Homo sapiens: one gene and its partners. The protein of the gene in region 2 interacts with the protein of the main gene of each other region in a pairwise test. Each region holds a gene or a part of one and is shown on either strand. Other genes may lie near its edges. The genes, in order: CCDC127, ENTREP1, POLH, WWC2 and USF2.

Region 1 (2,414 bases), on a different chromosome or scaffold from region 2:
CCGTGCGATGTTGGGAGGAGCCAGGGTGTTTGGGGGGGCAGCTGCCCTAGACACTGGCTGGCTGTGATGGGGGGCAGCCTGCTGTGTAGACACTGGCTGGCTGTGATGGGGGGCAGCCTGCTGTGTAGACACTGGCTGGCTGTGATGGGGGCAGCCTGCTGTGTAGACGCTGGCTGTGATGGGGGCAGCCTGCTGTGTAGACGCTGGCTGGCTGTGATGGGGGCAGCCTGCTGTGTAGACGCTGGCTAGCTGTGATGGGGGCAGCCTGCTGTGTAGACGCTGGCTGGCTGTGATGGGGGCAGCCTGCTGTGTAGAAAGTGCTGGGCTTGCTCCGTCTGCCTTGACTTGTGTGAGTAACTGCGCTGGGTTTTATAGGTTGAGGCTGAAAAGGCTCCTCTTTCTATGCTGGGTTTGACGAAACAGTTGCTGTATTTCTCTATTAATTTAGGATTCTGTTTGCAAGCAGCAGAGATGGATTTGTGCTAGCCTAGAAAGTTAAAGAGGGATTTAAGGCTGTCTCGTGAAACTTCAGGTCAAGAATGGAGAACACAGGTTAGATGTCAGAGAAGAACCAGAAAGACAAATAAGGGACTCTCAGGGGCCTCGGAGTACTTGTCACTCTGTGTCATATCTCTGCATAGCCGCGCCAATCCCCAAACCAGCTTCTCTGGCCACACGGTGGGACAGGGCGGTTCCCACAGCTCCTGAGCCTGCCCCCTGCCTGGCCTGCTCCAGCGGGCGGCCGAGTTAGGGAAGCGCTGGGCTCCACCATACCGCGGTGTTCTAAAGGAGTGGGAACAATGAAGATCAGGGTTGCAGAGCCTGTGGCCTTTGCTAGCTTCATGGGAAATCTTGAAAAGAGAAAACGAAGGGCTTCAGTAAGCCACCCATGGACAGCAGGCATGCGGTGGAAGGCGGAGGGCTTCTGTGGCAGCTTCGCAGGTCTCTCATCTGCTGCAGACCCCCTGACAGGCTGAGGGTCTTGCTGTCGGGTAGCGGGACCAGATGAGCCTGAATGTGGCTCTGCGGCTCACAGGACAAGTGTACCTTGAGAGCTGCTGCCGCCGCCTGGATGTTTGCTGGGTGAGCTCCAGATTCACGGGAGCCCTTTGTGCCAGCATGGCCGCCCCAACCCCATGGGGAAAGCAGATCTCCCTCACCTGGGAATCTGGCAGAGACCTCAGGCAGTGCCCCATCTTTCATGACCTGCCTGGTCCAGGTAGAGGAGTCAAGTCCTGCTCCAGGAGCAGGTGCAGGGCCTGGCCTGGGTGCCGAGAGTGGGGTGAGGAGGGAGGAGTAACGAAGAAAGGCAGATGGGCAGAAAGTGCCACATTGGGGCACTCAAGTGGCTCTGTTTAATATTCCAGCAGGGACACTGAGACCGAGCCCATCCCTGCTGGGAGAGCTTCTCGAAGCTGGTTGGTGGCTGACAGGCAGGGAGTGGGGTGCTGGGGCCTCCTCGGGAGGTAGGGGTGCTGGGGCCCTGCTCTTGACAGCACTGTGCCATAGCTCCGAGGTGGCTGCTCCCCATGGGCCAGGGCTGGTGGTGCCAGAAAATGGGATCTGGGCTGAGGGGCTCTGGGCTGGCAGAGGTGGGGCGGGGGGTGACTGGCAGGCATCAAGATGGGGGGGGACAAGCACGGTGCCCCCACCCATGGGGCCGTGTGGGGCTGATGGATAGTGGGACTCCAGCATGCAGCAGATGATGGAGCCTTGCTCAACTCAGAAGAGGAAGAGCAGGAGAGCGCTGGTGGATGAGAGCAACCCTGATGTTCCAGGGCCCTTGGCCACGTCCACCACACAGAGGGGCCACGTCCACACAGAGGGGCCACGTCCACCACACAGAGGGGCCACGTCCACCACACAGGGGCCACTGGGCCTGCGTATATCTCCTTGGCCTGCGAGGGTATCATCATTTCCTGACCTGTGGAACAAGTCATTAAGCCAGGAAGGACTTGAGTTGGAGCCCCTAAAACGGCCCCCACTCCTTGCCAGGATGGTGGACAGGAAGCAGTGCCATGTTCTGAAGGAGCTGCACCAGCCCATGCTGCTGTGGAAGACCCAAGGGAGGCAAAGACGGTGGCTCCAGATGGCGGCCCCCATTGGGACCCTGCTCACATCACCCACTGGCCCTGGAAAGCCGGGGTGGGCCTGGGCAGGTGAACCCTGAGGCTCCGCCAGGAGCAGCCCCAGCTACAGCCACCATGGATGTTTGCTGGGTTGGATCAGCACTCTCACCTGCTGAATGGTTTTGCCTGATTCCCACTAGCTTGTCTTGTGTGGGAGGCCGTGTTTTCTGCGGTAGAGAAGTGCTCTCCATAAAAACCCAGCAGGCGTGCTCCTGGGCCCTGCAGACGCCGGATGTGTGGCCACAGACGCCATGCGACCCAGGACTGGAGTCACAAGATTGGGCG
Region 2 (3,521 bases):
CACTTTCCACGAGCCAAACACCATCTAAGTCCTTTACATGCATCCTCTCCTGAGAATTGTCTTATGGAGGCAGCGTTATTATTATTTTAAAGATTTTCTACATTGTATTCTGGTGATGTTTGTTGAAGTACTTAGTGGTGCCATTGTTTCCTTGCCCCAGAAAGTCCTCTTTGCCCTGTGTGCCTTGAATGCCCTGACCACCACCGTCTGCTTGGTGGCCGCTGCCCTCCGCTACCTCCAGATATTCGCAACCAGGAGATCCTGCATCGTAAGTCTATGCAAGGGCATCATGGCCACGTTTCCGCTGAGCCAGCCCATGGACCCCTTCGTGTCATCCACTGCCTCTCTCCCCGTGCCTTTGTAATGAAGGCTGTTGACTAACTGAGCTGCTGTTTAATCAGGATGAATCCCAGATTTCTGCTGAAGAAGCGGAGGATCATGGACGCATCCCCGACCCTGATGATTTTGTGCCGCCTGTGCCTCCCCCTTCCTATTTTGCCACGTTTTACTCGTGCACACCCCGGATGAACCGCAGGTATCGTTCCTGAGTTCCCCTGCAGTCTGAGTGGGATGCTGTGGGTTCTGAAGACTGAAGTGTCTCCAGAACTCACCACATGAGATCTCACTTTTCTTTGAAAAAGAAAAAGAAAAATTTTTCCTGACTTGAGGAACGTTAGCCCAATGAGTGACAAAATCAGCTAGTGAACCCTGTGGTATGGCTTTTAGAGAGTCCACCTCTGCCAGCCTTCTTTAGAAAAATGAAAAACAATTATGCTGTTTTTCAGGGGTTTCTATTCTCTCTGTCTCTCTCTCTCTGTTTTCTGTCTTACTTTCTCTTTTTGTCTGATAAAACAGATGAATCCAAAGAAAAGTTAAACTTTGGCCTGAAGATAGACATTTTCAATTTCAATTAGCTTTCTAAGGGAAACTGACACCCAGGGAGATAACAGCTGTAATTTGACATGATTGAGAGTCGCTGTTGCCTTGGAAACACTCCCAGTTAGGCCAAATCGATGTTTCATTGTAATACCATCAGCAGGTCTCAACAATCAAGAAATTCTTCCTAGCCATTAAAAAGAGATTAATTATTAATTGTCTCTCCCTGGTCTAGAAAAAATAGATACCATACTTATTTTCCTTTTCAAATTTCAAACTTAAAATTTTGACCTTCTTAAATATCAAGGATTTTTATTGGTACAGTGAAATGCCGCATACATCTGTCTGATTGTTAGCAACTTCTAGAATCAAACCTTTTTTTAAAGAATGACTTCATTTAGGCGCGGCGTGGTGGCTCACACCTGTAATCCCAGCACTTTGGGAGGCTGAGGCGGGCAGATCATGAGGTCAGGAGATCAAGACCATCCTGGCTAACCCCCGTCTCTACTAAAAATACAAAAAAATTAGCCGGGCATGGTAGTGGGCACCTGTAGTCCCAGCTACTTGGGAGGCTGAGGCAGGAGAATGGCATGAACCTGGGAGGTGGAGCTTGCAGTGAGCTGAGATCGCACCACTGCACTCCAGCCTGGGTGAGAGCGAGACTTTGTCTCAAAAAAAAAAAAAAGAATGACTTCATTCGTTTATTCATTCAACAAACGTGGAATCCTCTGTGCTGGGTTATTGGAATTCAAAATGAGCTAGACCTGCTTCCTCCTCTACCATTAAGGAGCTCACAGTCTAGGTCATTAAAATGTGTGTTGGAAGGATCACGGTAATATTCAAAAGAGGGACTTTGGGTGCACAGAGAAGGTACACCTAACCCAGAGTGGCAAGGCAGTCAGAGATGGCTTCCTGGATGAAGTGAACTTAAGCTGAGTTTAAAGGATAAGCAAACATCTGTTGAACTTTTTGAAAGAGAATCTCTTAATTCCACAGAAATACTAGTGTCTTTAGCTTCATATTCAGAGGGCCAGAAATTTCTATTTTTTAATCCCTGTAGTACATGTAGAGACTTATCAAACTAACTTGGTGCTGAGCTTGAGGTTTTTAGAGAAGTATTTTCTAATGTCCAGGGTGATGGTATGTGACTTTGAGATAGGTCACCAGTGGGGCTGCCACCCAGACACTGTTAGTGTTCTTTTCAGTGGCTTAGCTGCTGACTCGTCCCTCAGTTATACCTGAACCCTACGTCTATACCCTCCCCAGCTCACTTGCCCAGGCAGGGGCAGAGATGACTGCAAAGCTGGAGGGGATGTCAGCTGGGTGACAGGTGGCCTGGGCTAGGCCTGTGGGACAGCTTGGCCTCTCTGGTGTTCAGGGAGTGGCCTCTACTGGAATTTCAAAGCCTCAGGGGCTGGGATGGCTTCCTTAATCTTTCAGGAAATGAGCCAAGAATGACAGAGGCTGAAGAGATATGGCAGCAAAACACATGTTCTTTCTGTACCTGAGGACACATTTGCAAAAATCTTAGCGCCGTCTCAGGCTGTCTGTAGAGGGTACATTGGAGGACAGTAAAAAATGACTGATATTTCATGGTGGGGATGAGAAATACCCTCTCCAATAAGAAGAATTCTTTGACACTGAGGTTGCGGATGAGCACTCTGTTGACCTAGGAGGAGGCAGCAGACAGATTTAGTTTCTGCAGTGGCAGAAAGGGAAAGTGACTCATGTGGGTTTAGGAGCCGAGCCATCCAGCAGTGTGCTCTGAGCACTCCCGACCTTCCTGTCTCCTCGCTTTCCTTTCTCTTCTCTGCTTCACCATAATAATGCTCATCACTGCAGATATTTCCACTCTTTAAGATCTAGGTGCATCCTCGGATTTGTCTCTCTGAGTCCTGAGACAGCCTCTGGCCAAATCCAGGTTGGAAGAAAACAGACAAGCTTCTCATCAAGGGCTTTATCCTTCAAAACTTTCTAGAAAGAAGGCCGAAGGAGGGAGTTAAAGCAAAACAGTCTTGTGAGAAAGAAGACATTGCCCAGTCTAAAATACGTGCCTAGAGCCCTATAATCATATTGCCAATGGGCAAACACCTTTATTTTTGGAAATTTTACCAATATCAGAGTGCAGTCCACTTTCCTTTTCAAAAGGGCTGAATTTATTCACATTTAGATACATGTCCTATCAAAAATATTTCACAATGTGACCAACTTTTCTAGATTCACGGTATAAATCAACTTTATAGACACTCATGGTTTAACCTCAGTTGGTAATTTTCTTTCTTTTAAGCAGGCAGGCAAGAATATTCATGATTGTTACTATTTTATGACCAGTTTTATCCAGAGTTTTCACACAACAGAGGCTCCCCATTTCCTGTAAGGTATTATGACCTCTCAGAAGAGGTTTGTTTAACTTCTATAAATACAACCACTTCATGCGTTGGCATCTCCTTGAGAAAAGGCTTCTCGAGTTACTGTCATAAACAGAAGTCTGATTGCAGTTGAGGTTTCTGTCCAAAGATGGGTTCGCTACTTTGTGAATTGATTTGTAATACAGGAGGGGGCCGTGCACCCCACCCCACCTCCGCTACTCCAGGGTGTCTCTGTTCTCAGAAGTTGGCTTGAGCCAGGGATCAAGGAGTCTCCAA
Region 3 (3,440 bases), on a different chromosome or scaffold from region 2:
CAGTGTCACTCTGTTGCCCAGACTGGAGTGCAGTGGCACAATCTCAGCTCACTACAACCTCTGCCTCCCAGATTCAAGTGATTCTCCTGCCTCAGCCTCCTAAGTAGCTGGGATTACACGCATGCGTCACCACACACACCTAATTTTTGTTATTTTTTGTAGAGATGGGTTTTCCCCATGTTGGCCAGCCTGGTCTCAAACTCCCAGCCTCAAGTGATCCGCCCACCTTGGCCTCCCAAAGTGTGGGATTACAGGCATGAGCCACCACACCTGACCCACATTGGGAAATCTTGTTAATATCAGATTACAATTAAGTGGGAATAGTGGTGAGGCTGAGACTATTTCTAATAAGTTCCCTGGTGATACTGAGGCTGCTGTTCCTCAAATCATACTTGGGAGTAGCAATGTTCTAGAGATGATCTAGTGGGTTTTTTTGAGACAGAGTTACTCTATCGCCCAGGCTGGAATGCAGTGGAAATCTCGGCTCACTGCAACCTCTGCCTCCCAGGTTCAAGTGATTCTCCTGCCTCAGCCTCCCAACTAGCTGGGATTACACGCACCCACCACCATGCCCGGCTAATTTTTGTATTTTTAGTAGATACAGGGTTTCGCCATGTTGGCCATGCTTGTCTTGAACTCCTGACTTCACGTGGTCCACCTGCCTTGGCCTCCCAAAGTGCTGGGATAACAGGCATAAACCACCACGCCTGGCAAGATTTGATTATGACTTATCAGATCTAAACAGAGTTCCTGAACTAGTCAAGTAGCAATCTAATTCTACATTAGAACAAAACGCAAGAGATAGGCCAATGGTTAGAACTGAGGGTATAATAGGGTTTACCTGTATGAAATTCACTGTTTATTAAGTCACTTTTATGTACAGAAAGACCTGCCCTAGTTACCATATCACTTTTAGGGTTTCAAGGCTTCATCTCACATTCTTCAGCTGAAAACAGGTAAATCTGGTGAAGGTATTATCTGAACTGCCCGTCACAGAGCTAGAGAGAAGTTTTTCTTTTGTTTTTTTTTTTTTTGAGACAGTCTCTCACTCTCACCCTGGCTGGAGTGCATTGGTGTGATCTCAACTCACTGCAACCTCCACCTTCCAGGTTCAAGCAATTCTCCTGCCTCAGTCTCCCGAGTACCTGGGATTACAGGCGCCTGCCACCAAGCCCAGCTAATTTTTTTTAGTAGAGACGGGGTTTTGCCACCTTGCCCAGGCTGGTCTCGAACTCCTGAGCTCCTGCAATCCACTCACCTCAGCCTCCCTAAATGCTGGGATTATAGGCATGAGGAACCGCACCCAGCCTAAAGAGAAGTTTTTCTTTTTTTTTTTTTTTTGAGACGGAGTCTCGCTCTGTCACCCAGGCTGGAGTGCAGTGGCGCGCTCTCGGCTCACTGCAAGCTCCGCCTCCCGGGTTCACACCATTCTCCTGCCTCAGCCTCCCGAGTAGCTGGGACTACAGGCGCCTGCCACCGCACCCGGCTAATTTTTTTTTGTATTTTTTAGTAGAGACGGGGTTTCACCGTGGTCTCGATCTCCTGACCTTGTGATCCGCCCGCCTCGGCCTCCCAAAGTGCTGGGATTGCAGGCGTGAGCCACTGCGCCCGGCCAAGAGAAGTTTTTCTTAAAATCCTTTTTTTGGGGGGGCCAGGATCGGTGGCTAACATCTGTAATCCCAGCAACTTTGGGAGGTCGAGGCAGGCGGATCATGAGGTCAAGCAATCGAGACCATCCTGGCCAACATGGTGAAACCTCATCTCTATTAAAAATACAAAAATTAGCTGAGTGTGGTAGCACGTGCCTGTAGTCCCAGCTACTTGGGAGGCTGAGGCAGGAGAATTGCTTGAACCCAGGAGACGGAGGTTGCGGTGAGCTGAGAACGCACCACTGCATTCTAGCCTGACGACAGAGGGAGACTCCGTCTCAAAAATAAAAAATAAAAATAAAAATAATCCCTTTTTTTTTTTTAACTATGCAAGTCTCATTACATTTAAAACCCTTTTTTAAACTTGGTCCCTTTTCTGTGCCAACTTTATGTTTGTTTTTGTTCTTGTTTTTGTTTGAGATGGAGTCTCGCTCTGTTGCCCAGGCTGGAGTGCGGTGGCGCGATCTCAGCTCACTCCAACCTCTGCCTCCTGGGTTCAAGTGATTCTCCTGCCTTAGCCTCCTGAGTAGCTGGGATTACAGGCGTGCACCACCACGCCTGGATAATTTTTTTTGTAATTTTAGTAGAGATGGGGTTTCACCATATTGGTCTGAAACTCCTGACCTCGTGATCTGCCCGCCTTGGCCTCCCAAAGTGCTGGCATTACAGGTATGAGCCACTGTGCCTGGCCCCTATTTTTTATTTTCTGAGATGAAGTCTCGCTCTGTTGCCCAGGCTGGAGCGCACTAGCATGATCTCAGCTCAATGCAACCTCCGCCTCCAAGGTTAAAGCAATTCTTCTGCCTCAGCCTCTAAGTAGCTGGGATCACAGGTGCCTGGAACGTGCCTGGCTAATTTTTCTATTTTTAGTAGAGATGGTTTTGCCATGTTGGCCAGGCTGGTCTCAAACTCCTGACCTCAGGTGATCTGTCTGCCTCGGCCTCCCAAAGTGTTAGGATTACAGGCGTGAGCCATTGTACCCGGCCGAGTTACATAATTTGAATACATTGTTATTAATCTGCAATAATCTGTAAGGTATTATCTCCATTTTACAGATGAGAATGTGAAGAAAATGACTTGTTCAAGGCCCTCATTGCAATAACCAGAGCTAAGTTTGCAACCACGTCTCTTAGACTCCAAGGCCCACACACTTTTTACTTTATGACACTGCCTCCCTAAATGCTAAAGATTAAAAACTCTGGTAGGATGAATTTTTACATCTCTGTCAGCAGTGGGATTAGAATCCATGCCTGTGAAGAGATGGGACCGTAACTCAGCACCTAAATGGATTATTTTTTGTATTAAAAATTTCATAATTCCCTTTCTCAGGGAAATCTGTAAAGATAAAATATTAAAGATAAAGATCTGTAAAGATAAAAAATATTAAATCCTACAGGCAAGCCTGAGGGCAGCACTAATGTGTTAATGGCTTAAAAAATGATTCCAATGTTTGCATGCCCTCAGGCCTGGGGCGTTTATTAGTGCAGGCCAAAGGGCTCTTGGGATTTCTTTTGCCTTGATGAGATACGGCAGAAACAACCTGGGGGTTTGAAGAGTGGGGCTGCAAAAAGGATTTCTGCAACTCCAATGCAAAATGATAGTCCATGTGTTCTGGCATATCCCATACCGGTACCAGGGAGCCACACTTCTCACAGGGCACTTGGTCCTCAGCAGCTAGAAGACTTGGATTTGGGGTTGCTTTCTGAGTCACCTCCAGCACAGATTTGGAAGCTGAAGAGGCGTGCATGCTTTGGCTGTTGTGGGCCAAATCCATCTCTGCAGGAGTTGCTT
Region 4 (3,521 bases), on a different chromosome or scaffold from region 2:
ACATTCCAGGCTTTGTGAACCACATTTAGTCTCTGTCACATATTCTTCTTTATTTTTGTTTGTTTGTTTACAGCTTTTCATGATTTAAAACCCATTCTTAGCTGGAGGGCTAAAATGAGGCCTACAAAGCAGAATTTTCATATAAACAACAAACATGGTTATGCTTCCACCAAAGAAAATCACTTCGTTTTGTGTGACTTTTAAGAGGTCTTTTAAAATTTTATTTTTTAGAACAGTCTTAGATTTATAGAAAAAAAACCACAAAATTAGTGTGGAAAGTTGCCATATATAGTCCACACTTACTTTTCCCTGTTGGTATGGTACATCTATTAACATTAATAAAATTAACTACAATCGGGCCGGGTGTGGTGTCTCACACCTGTAATCCCAGCACTTTGGGAGGCCGAGGCAGGCAGATCACTAGGTCAGGAGTTCAAGACTAGCCTGGCCAACATGGTGAAACCCTATCTCTACTAAAAATACAAAAATTAGCTGGGTGTGGTGGCACATGCCTGTAATCCCAGCTACTGGGGAGGCTGAGGCAGGAGAATTGCTTGAACCCGGGAGGCTGAGGCTGCAGTGAGCCGAGATCACAACACTGCACTCCAGCCTGGGTGAAAGAGTGAGGCTGTGTCTCAAAAAAAAAAAAAATTTTAACTACAATCCATACCTTATTCAGATTTCCTTAGTTTTCACCTAATGTCCTTTTTCCAGCCCAGGACTCCTCCACCCCTGGGACACATTACATTTAGTCTTGGTGTCTCCTTACGCTCCTCATGGCTGTGAGGGTTTCTCAGACTTTCCTTATTGGTGAGGATCTTGACGGTTTTGAGGGGTACTGGTCAGGTATTTTATAGGATACCCCTCTACTGGGATCCAGTAGGTGTTTTTCTCAAGATTAGACTGGAGTTACTACGGTTTTGGGGGAGAAAGACCACAAAGATAAAATGCCATTGTCACCACATCACATCAAGGGTGTATCAGCAGGACTTAGTGCCCTGGATGTTCCCTTTGATCACCTGATGGAGGCAGCGCTTGTCAGGTTTGCTCCTGCCATTTTTTAAAAAAACAATGAACAAAAATAAATTTAATTCTTCACATATATAACGAGCTAAAAGGAAAAGCCTTTACATGTCAAATCATTTTGAATAAGCTGATGTATATACATTGCACATATGATTCATTACGTGACTCACACAAATGCCTCATAAAATACATCACATTTGAAATAAAGAAAAAAATTAATATATACTTTGCCAATATATTCTGCTTTTAATTCCTTTCAACTGTCTTCCCTCTGAGTGTTTAGGAAGAAGGTACCCTTAAACTGAAATATAGGAATATAGAGAAAATTTAACAGATAATACTCAAAATTTTCTTTCACTTTTTAAATGATGATTATGCACACTAGATTGTAGGCAAGCTGAGCTGGGACCAAATCTTATCCATCTTTATCTCCCAGAGTCCAGGGTACCTGGCTGGTTGATACAATAAAAACTGTTAATTAATGCATATCTACAATGTCAGTATTAAATAATCACTCAAAGCAATCAGATAGGGAGAAAAGGGAAGAGCAATGTGAGACTAAAAAAACCCTCTAACTTCTCTTACCTAACTTTTTATTGATCAAGTAAGAGTGAGAGTACACAAACAAAAAGGGGGCAGAATAGCAACAGCTATAAAAGGCTAGAATAAGGGGAGGCTTGGGCCCAACTAAGGCCATCAAAACACTACGAAGAGGGAAATACAAATCAACACCACAGTAAGATCCTACCTCACACCCACTAAAATAACTTTTTAAAAAAAAGAAAGAAGTGAGGCCAGTTGTGGTGGCTCACATCTGTAATCCTAGCACTTTGGAAGGCCAAGGTAGGCAGATCACTTGAGGTCAAAAGTTCGAGACCGGCCCAACCCCGTCTCTACTAAAAATACAAAAATTGCCCAGGCATGGTGGCTTGTGCCTATAATCCCAGCTACTCAGGAGGCTGAGGTGGGAGGATCTGTTGAACCCTGGAGGTGGAGGTGGAAGCCGCAGTGAGCCGAGATCACCACTGCACTCCAGCCTGGGCAAGAGAGACCGGCTCCGTCTCAAAAGAAGAAAGAAAAGAAAAAAAGAAAAGAGAGAAGAGAAGAGAAGGAAAGAGAAGAGAGAGACAGAAAGAGGAGAGAAGGAGAGAAAGAGAGAGAAGTGTTGGTGAGGATGTGGAGGAATTTGCACACTCATACCCTGCTGGTGGGAATGTAAAATGGTGGTAAACAGTCTAGCAGTCCCCTCAAAAAGTTAAACATAGAACTGCCATATGACCCAGCAACTCCACTTTTAGACATGTATATACTGAAGAGAACTGAAGACACACATTCATACAAAAATTGTACAGGGATATTCATAGCAGCATCATTCATAACAGCCAAAGAGTGGAAATGACCCAAATGCACATCAGCTAATGAAAGTACAAAATATGGTATATCTACACAATCGAATATTATTAAGTCATGAAAATGATGCAGTAGTACAATAAATGCTACAAAATGAACCCTGAATGCATTACACTAAGAAAAAAAGAAGCCAGATACAAAGGGATACAAATTTTACTATTCCATTTATATAAAATGTCCAGAATAGGCAAATTCAGAGACACAAAGTAGATCAGTTTTTGCAAAAAGCTGTAGAGACGGGAGATGAATGAGAAGTGAGTTCTTAATAGGTAAGGGGTCGTTTGTTTTGGGGGTGATTAAAATGTTCAGGAATTATACAGTGTTTATGGTTTCATAACAATGAATATACTAAAAACTACTAAGGTGTAGTCTTCAAAATGGTTAAAATGAATAATTTTATGCTGAGGAATTTTTTTAATCTAATAAAGATAAAATAATTGGAAAAAATCACTGAAGACATTGAAAACATTGTGAACCTATATTTTGATAAATCATTTGTATCTCACAACTTACATACACACTGTGCCTTTAAAAATCCCTTTCCTCAGCCGGGCGTGGTGGCTCATGCCTGTAATCCCAGCATTTTGGGAGGCTGAGATGGGCAGATCACCTGAGGTCAGAAGTTCGAGACTAGCCTGGCCAACATGGTGAAACCCCATCTCTATTAAAAATACAAAAACTAGCTGGGCGTGGTGGCGAGAGCCTATAATCCCAGCTACTCGGGAGGCTGAGGCAGAATTGCTTGAACCTTGAACCCAGGAGGCGGAGGCTGTAGTGAGCCGAAATCACACCACTGCACCCCAGCCTGGGCAACAAGAATAAAACTCTTGTCAAAAAAAAAAAATCCCTTTCCTCTTCTACATTATTCTGTGGTAACTTTTTCAGTAACAGGAGTTTAGAAATGCATAAAGAAGTCCAAAATTCTTTTTTTTTTTTTTTTAAGACAGAGTCCCGTTCTGTCACCCAGGCTGGAGTGCATTGGCGCAATGTCTGCTCACTGCAAGCTCCGCTTCCCGGGTTCACGCCATTCTCCTGCCTCAGCCACCCAAGTAGCTGGGACTACAGGCACCCGCCACCACGCCTGG
Region 5 (3,521 bases), on a different chromosome or scaffold from region 2:
AATAAAGATTTTAGTAGAAAATTGGAAAAAAAAAAAAAAAAAGAATTACCTTAAAAAGCTGGGGTTGGGGTGTGCCAGGGAAGCTAAAGCATGAAACCTAGCAAATTGAATCCAAAGTGAGTAGAAGGGGCCGGGTGCAGTGGCTCACTCCTGTAATCCCAGCACTTTGGGAGGCTGAGGCAGGTGGATAACCTGAGGCCAGGAGTTCGAGACCAGCCTGGCCAACATGGTGAAACCCCGTCTCTACCAAAAATACAAAAACTAGCTAGGTGTGGCAGCGGGCACCTGTAGTCCCAGCTACTTGGGAGACTGAGGCAGGAGAATCACTTGAACCGGGGAGGCAGAGGTTGTAGTAAGCTGAGATTGCGCCACTGTGACAGAGCGAGATTCCATCTCAAAACAAAACAACAAACAAACAAAAAACCAAGTGAGTAGAAGCATGAATTAGTAACATTAAGAGTAGAAATCAATGAAACGGAAAAAGCAATCTAATCTGGCACCTAAAAATCAGATTTCACATAAGTCTCGATTTCTAGCTTCTCAGAGTTTCTGGCAACAGTGGCCCTAGATTCTGACAGGGCAGCAAGGGGAAGGCACTGGGCAAGGGCCACCCTTCAGGCAGCGCACACATGCCCCAGATCACTGGGGGCCCCCCACAACCTTTCCTATCTTTTTCTGACACAAGGTCTGGGTCTGTTGCTCAGGCTGGAGGGTAATCTCAGCTCACTGCAACCTCTGTCTCCCGGACTCAAGCCATCTTCCCACCACAGGTTCCCAAGTAGCTGGGACTGTTACAGGCATGTACCACCAGGCCTGGCTAATTTTTAATTTTTTTGGTAGAGACAGGGTTTTGTCACATTGCCTAGGATGGTCTCAAACTCCTGGGCTCAAGTGATCCGTCCGTCTTGGCCAAAATGTAATCCCAAAAGTGCTGGGATTCCGGGCGGGAGCCACCACACCCAGCCACACACCCCTTCCTGAGATGCCAAGTGCACCTCCCTCCCTCAGGCCCCTGCAGGCATTTGAGTCTGTGACTCTGGGATAAGCTCCTGCAGTACCAAGAAGTGGTGGGAAGGAGGGAAAAAGAAGTGAGAGAAGCGGATCTGAAATCACCACAGAAGAGAAACTTGGGGTTTGTGGCCATAAGGGAAGAAGAGGGCAGAGTTGAAAGCGGCTCTGGTCTTAGTTTCTGGCTTGGGCAGCTGTGACAGGGGTAGCTTTTGCTGCTCTGCAAAGAAGAAGGTTGCATGAAAGCCTTTGGAGACGGGAGATGGCACATTCTCTTTTGGGCGAGTTGAGTTTGAGGCATTACAGGGATGTCCAGAGACAGAAATCTCGAATAGGTAGTTCAAAACGTGGGGCTGGAGTTGCAGTGAAAGGAAGGGAATGGATGGAAACACAGTTCCTTGCATTACCAGGAGCCAGGTGGTGGGCGAAGCCTGGGAGGACATCAAGGAACAGTCCTCAACTTTTTGTGAGTCACACACTCTTCTGCAGCAAAGAAAAAAGAGGAACACCTACAAGGGGGAACAGAGTTTGGGGGATACTGACCAAGAGCTTCCGAGCCCATCGCTGGGCCTCACAAGTCATACACCTGAGGCCGACGGGAGGGGCCGGACCTTATGAAACACCAGCAAGACTGGGTGTGGCAGCTCAGGCCTGTAGCCGAGGCCGGAGGACTGCCTGAGGCCAGAAGTTCAAGACGAGCCTGGGCAGCATAGCAAGACCTCCACTCTACAGATAAAAAAAAATTACCCCATGTGATGACGCCTGCCTGTGGTCCCAGCCACTCAGAAGCCTGAGGTGTGAGGATCGCTTGAGCCTGGGAGGTCAAGGCTGCAGTGAGCTGTGATTGTGCCACTGTACTCCAGCCTGGGTGACAGAGTGAGACCCCCTTCTCAAAAAAAAAGAAACACTCGCAGCCAAAGCAGTTTCTCAAGCTTGTCCACTATGACAAATCACCTGAAGAGCTGATGGAAAACACAGATTCCCCGGCACCCCCATCTACTCACTTGGAACTGGGACAGCCCTGGAAATTTCACTGTTAACAGTGGGGTAGGAAAGGCAAAGATCACAGGAGAATCAGAGAGGATGGAGGAGAAAGGAAGATTCCAGAAAGGAACAGAGGGAAACAGGCAGCATCAGATGCTTGGAGCCCAGACAGCAAAGGAGGCCAGTGGATGTGGCAATGGGGTCACCACGGGTGACCGGAAGTGGAGCTGTTTTGGTAGAGCCATGAGCCAGATGGCTGAGGGTACTGGGAGGATGAGCAGATTGGGGCAGATGCTCTGCAAGTCAGGAAAGCGGAGACAGGACGGAGCTGGAGAAGTGGGCAGGTGATGAAGACTGCTTCACAGGGTGAGAAAGTTTCAAGGCTGCCTGGAGTCAGATTAACTAAGGGAGAGGCGGGGGTGAGAGTGGGGTGGGAGGGTTCTGAGTCCTCTCTTCGCCTTACTGTGTGGCCACCAAGACTCACTGCATCCCCACCAGGTGCCCGGGGCGGCTGTGCTTCCACCATTTCACAGAGGGAAGACAGGTACGGAGATTAAGAACCACCCTGACGCCCCACCACAGGTAAGTCGTGGGGCTGGGGCTGCTCTGGGGGCCCCTCAAACTCACTGCATCTCAAAACCAAGCTCAGATGCACCCCTTCCCTTCCAAGCATGGAGGGGAGTTCAGCACGAAACCCTTATTCTCCAGCCTTGGAGTCCTCCCCACATTTCCCCCAACCCCTGCCCTGTCTCAGGCCTGACAGTCGTATGGTCTCCTACCTCCCAGCCCCTTCCCACCACTCTTGCCAACAGCCTCCACAACCCAAACCCCTCTGCTGGCTTCTCATCACCCTGGAATAAAACCACAGGAGCCCAGACAGCCACACTGGGGACTTCTTCCAAGGTCCTCCACCATCTGGCCTGGGCAGCCCCCTCCACTGCGCCAACTTCCTCTTTCCTTTCCTGAATTCTGCTCTTCTGCAGACACACCATGGCGGCCCTGGCTCAGGGCCTGGCCTGTGTTCTAGCTCTTCCCTCTGCCCGGGACTCTCCTGAGGTTCTCAACAGGCCCCTTCCCTCAGGTCGCTTCAGGGATCTGCTTCAATGTCACCTCTCGAAGAGCCCTTCAGAGCACACTACCATGCCGCCATCACCCGCCACCTTCTTCCCCAGCTTTCCTCTCCTGCCTGTGACTGCCTGCACTGCCTGATGCGGCTGTGTGACTCCCATCTCTCCCACCAGAACGCGCACAGAGAGCTGAGACCTTGTCTGTCCTATCATCTGCTGCATTGCCATATCTGAGGACGCAAAAGGGGGGCTGGTCGTAGTATGCACGCGCTGAATGAACGCCTGAACTCAGGGAGGAGCTGCTCAGAACACAACTACCTGGGCCACAGACCCCAGTCCCATCACCACCTTTAGGACTCAGCATTCAGCCCCTCACTCGGGCATTCGAGGCCTTCCCGATCTTCCCTCCTGAGGCATTCTAAATGGAACTTCTCCCACAACCAAACCAGCACCCCACAAAGT

What was found.
Region 1: the proteins of ENTREP1 (region 2) and CCDC127 interact in a two-hybrid assay, tested with the Homo sapiens proteins (one large-scale study listed by IntAct).
Region 3: the proteins of ENTREP1 (region 2) and POLH interact in a two-hybrid assay, tested with the Homo sapiens proteins (one large-scale study listed by IntAct).
Region 4: the proteins of ENTREP1 (region 2) and WWC2 interact in a two-hybrid assay, tested with the Homo sapiens proteins (one large-scale study listed by IntAct).
Region 5: the proteins of ENTREP1 (region 2) and USF2 interact in a two-hybrid assay, tested with the Homo sapiens proteins (one large-scale study listed by IntAct).

The regions. Positions count from the first base shown.
Region 1 is NC_000005.10:198,740-201,153, reverse strand, and holds part of CCDC127 (coiled-coil domain-containing protein 127), read left to right. Parts: 3' UTR 1-2,414.
Region 2 is NC_000009.12:69,377,210-69,380,730, forward strand, and holds part of ENTREP1 (endosomal transmembrane epsin interactor 1), read left to right. Parts: intron 1-160; coding exon 161-268; intron 269-401; coding exon 402-535; intron 536-3,521. UniProt on the Homo sapiens protein: Functions as an activator of the E3 ubiquitin protein ligase ITCH in the ubiquitination of the CXCL12-activated CXCR4 receptor. Thereby, triggers CXCR4 endocytosis and desensitization, negatively regulating the CXCL12/CXCR4 signaling pathway.
Region 3 is NC_000006.12:43,614,181-43,617,620, reverse strand, and holds part of POLH (DNA polymerase eta), read right to left. Parts: coding exon 3,064-3,440; 3' UTR 1-3,063. UniProt on the Homo sapiens protein: DNA polymerase specifically involved in the DNA repair by translesion synthesis (TLS). Due to low processivity on both damaged and normal DNA, cooperates with the heterotetrameric (REV3L, REV7, POLD2 and POLD3) POLZ complex for complete bypass of DNA lesions.
Region 4 is NC_000004.12:183,105,745-183,109,265, reverse strand, and holds part of WWC2 (protein WWC2), read right to left. Parts: intron 1-3,521. UniProt on the Homo sapiens protein: Regulator of the Hippo signaling pathway, also known as the Salvador-Warts-Hippo (SWH) pathway.
Region 5 is NC_000019.10:35,271,954-35,275,474, reverse strand, and holds part of USF2 (upstream stimulatory factor 2), read right to left. Parts: intron 1-3,521.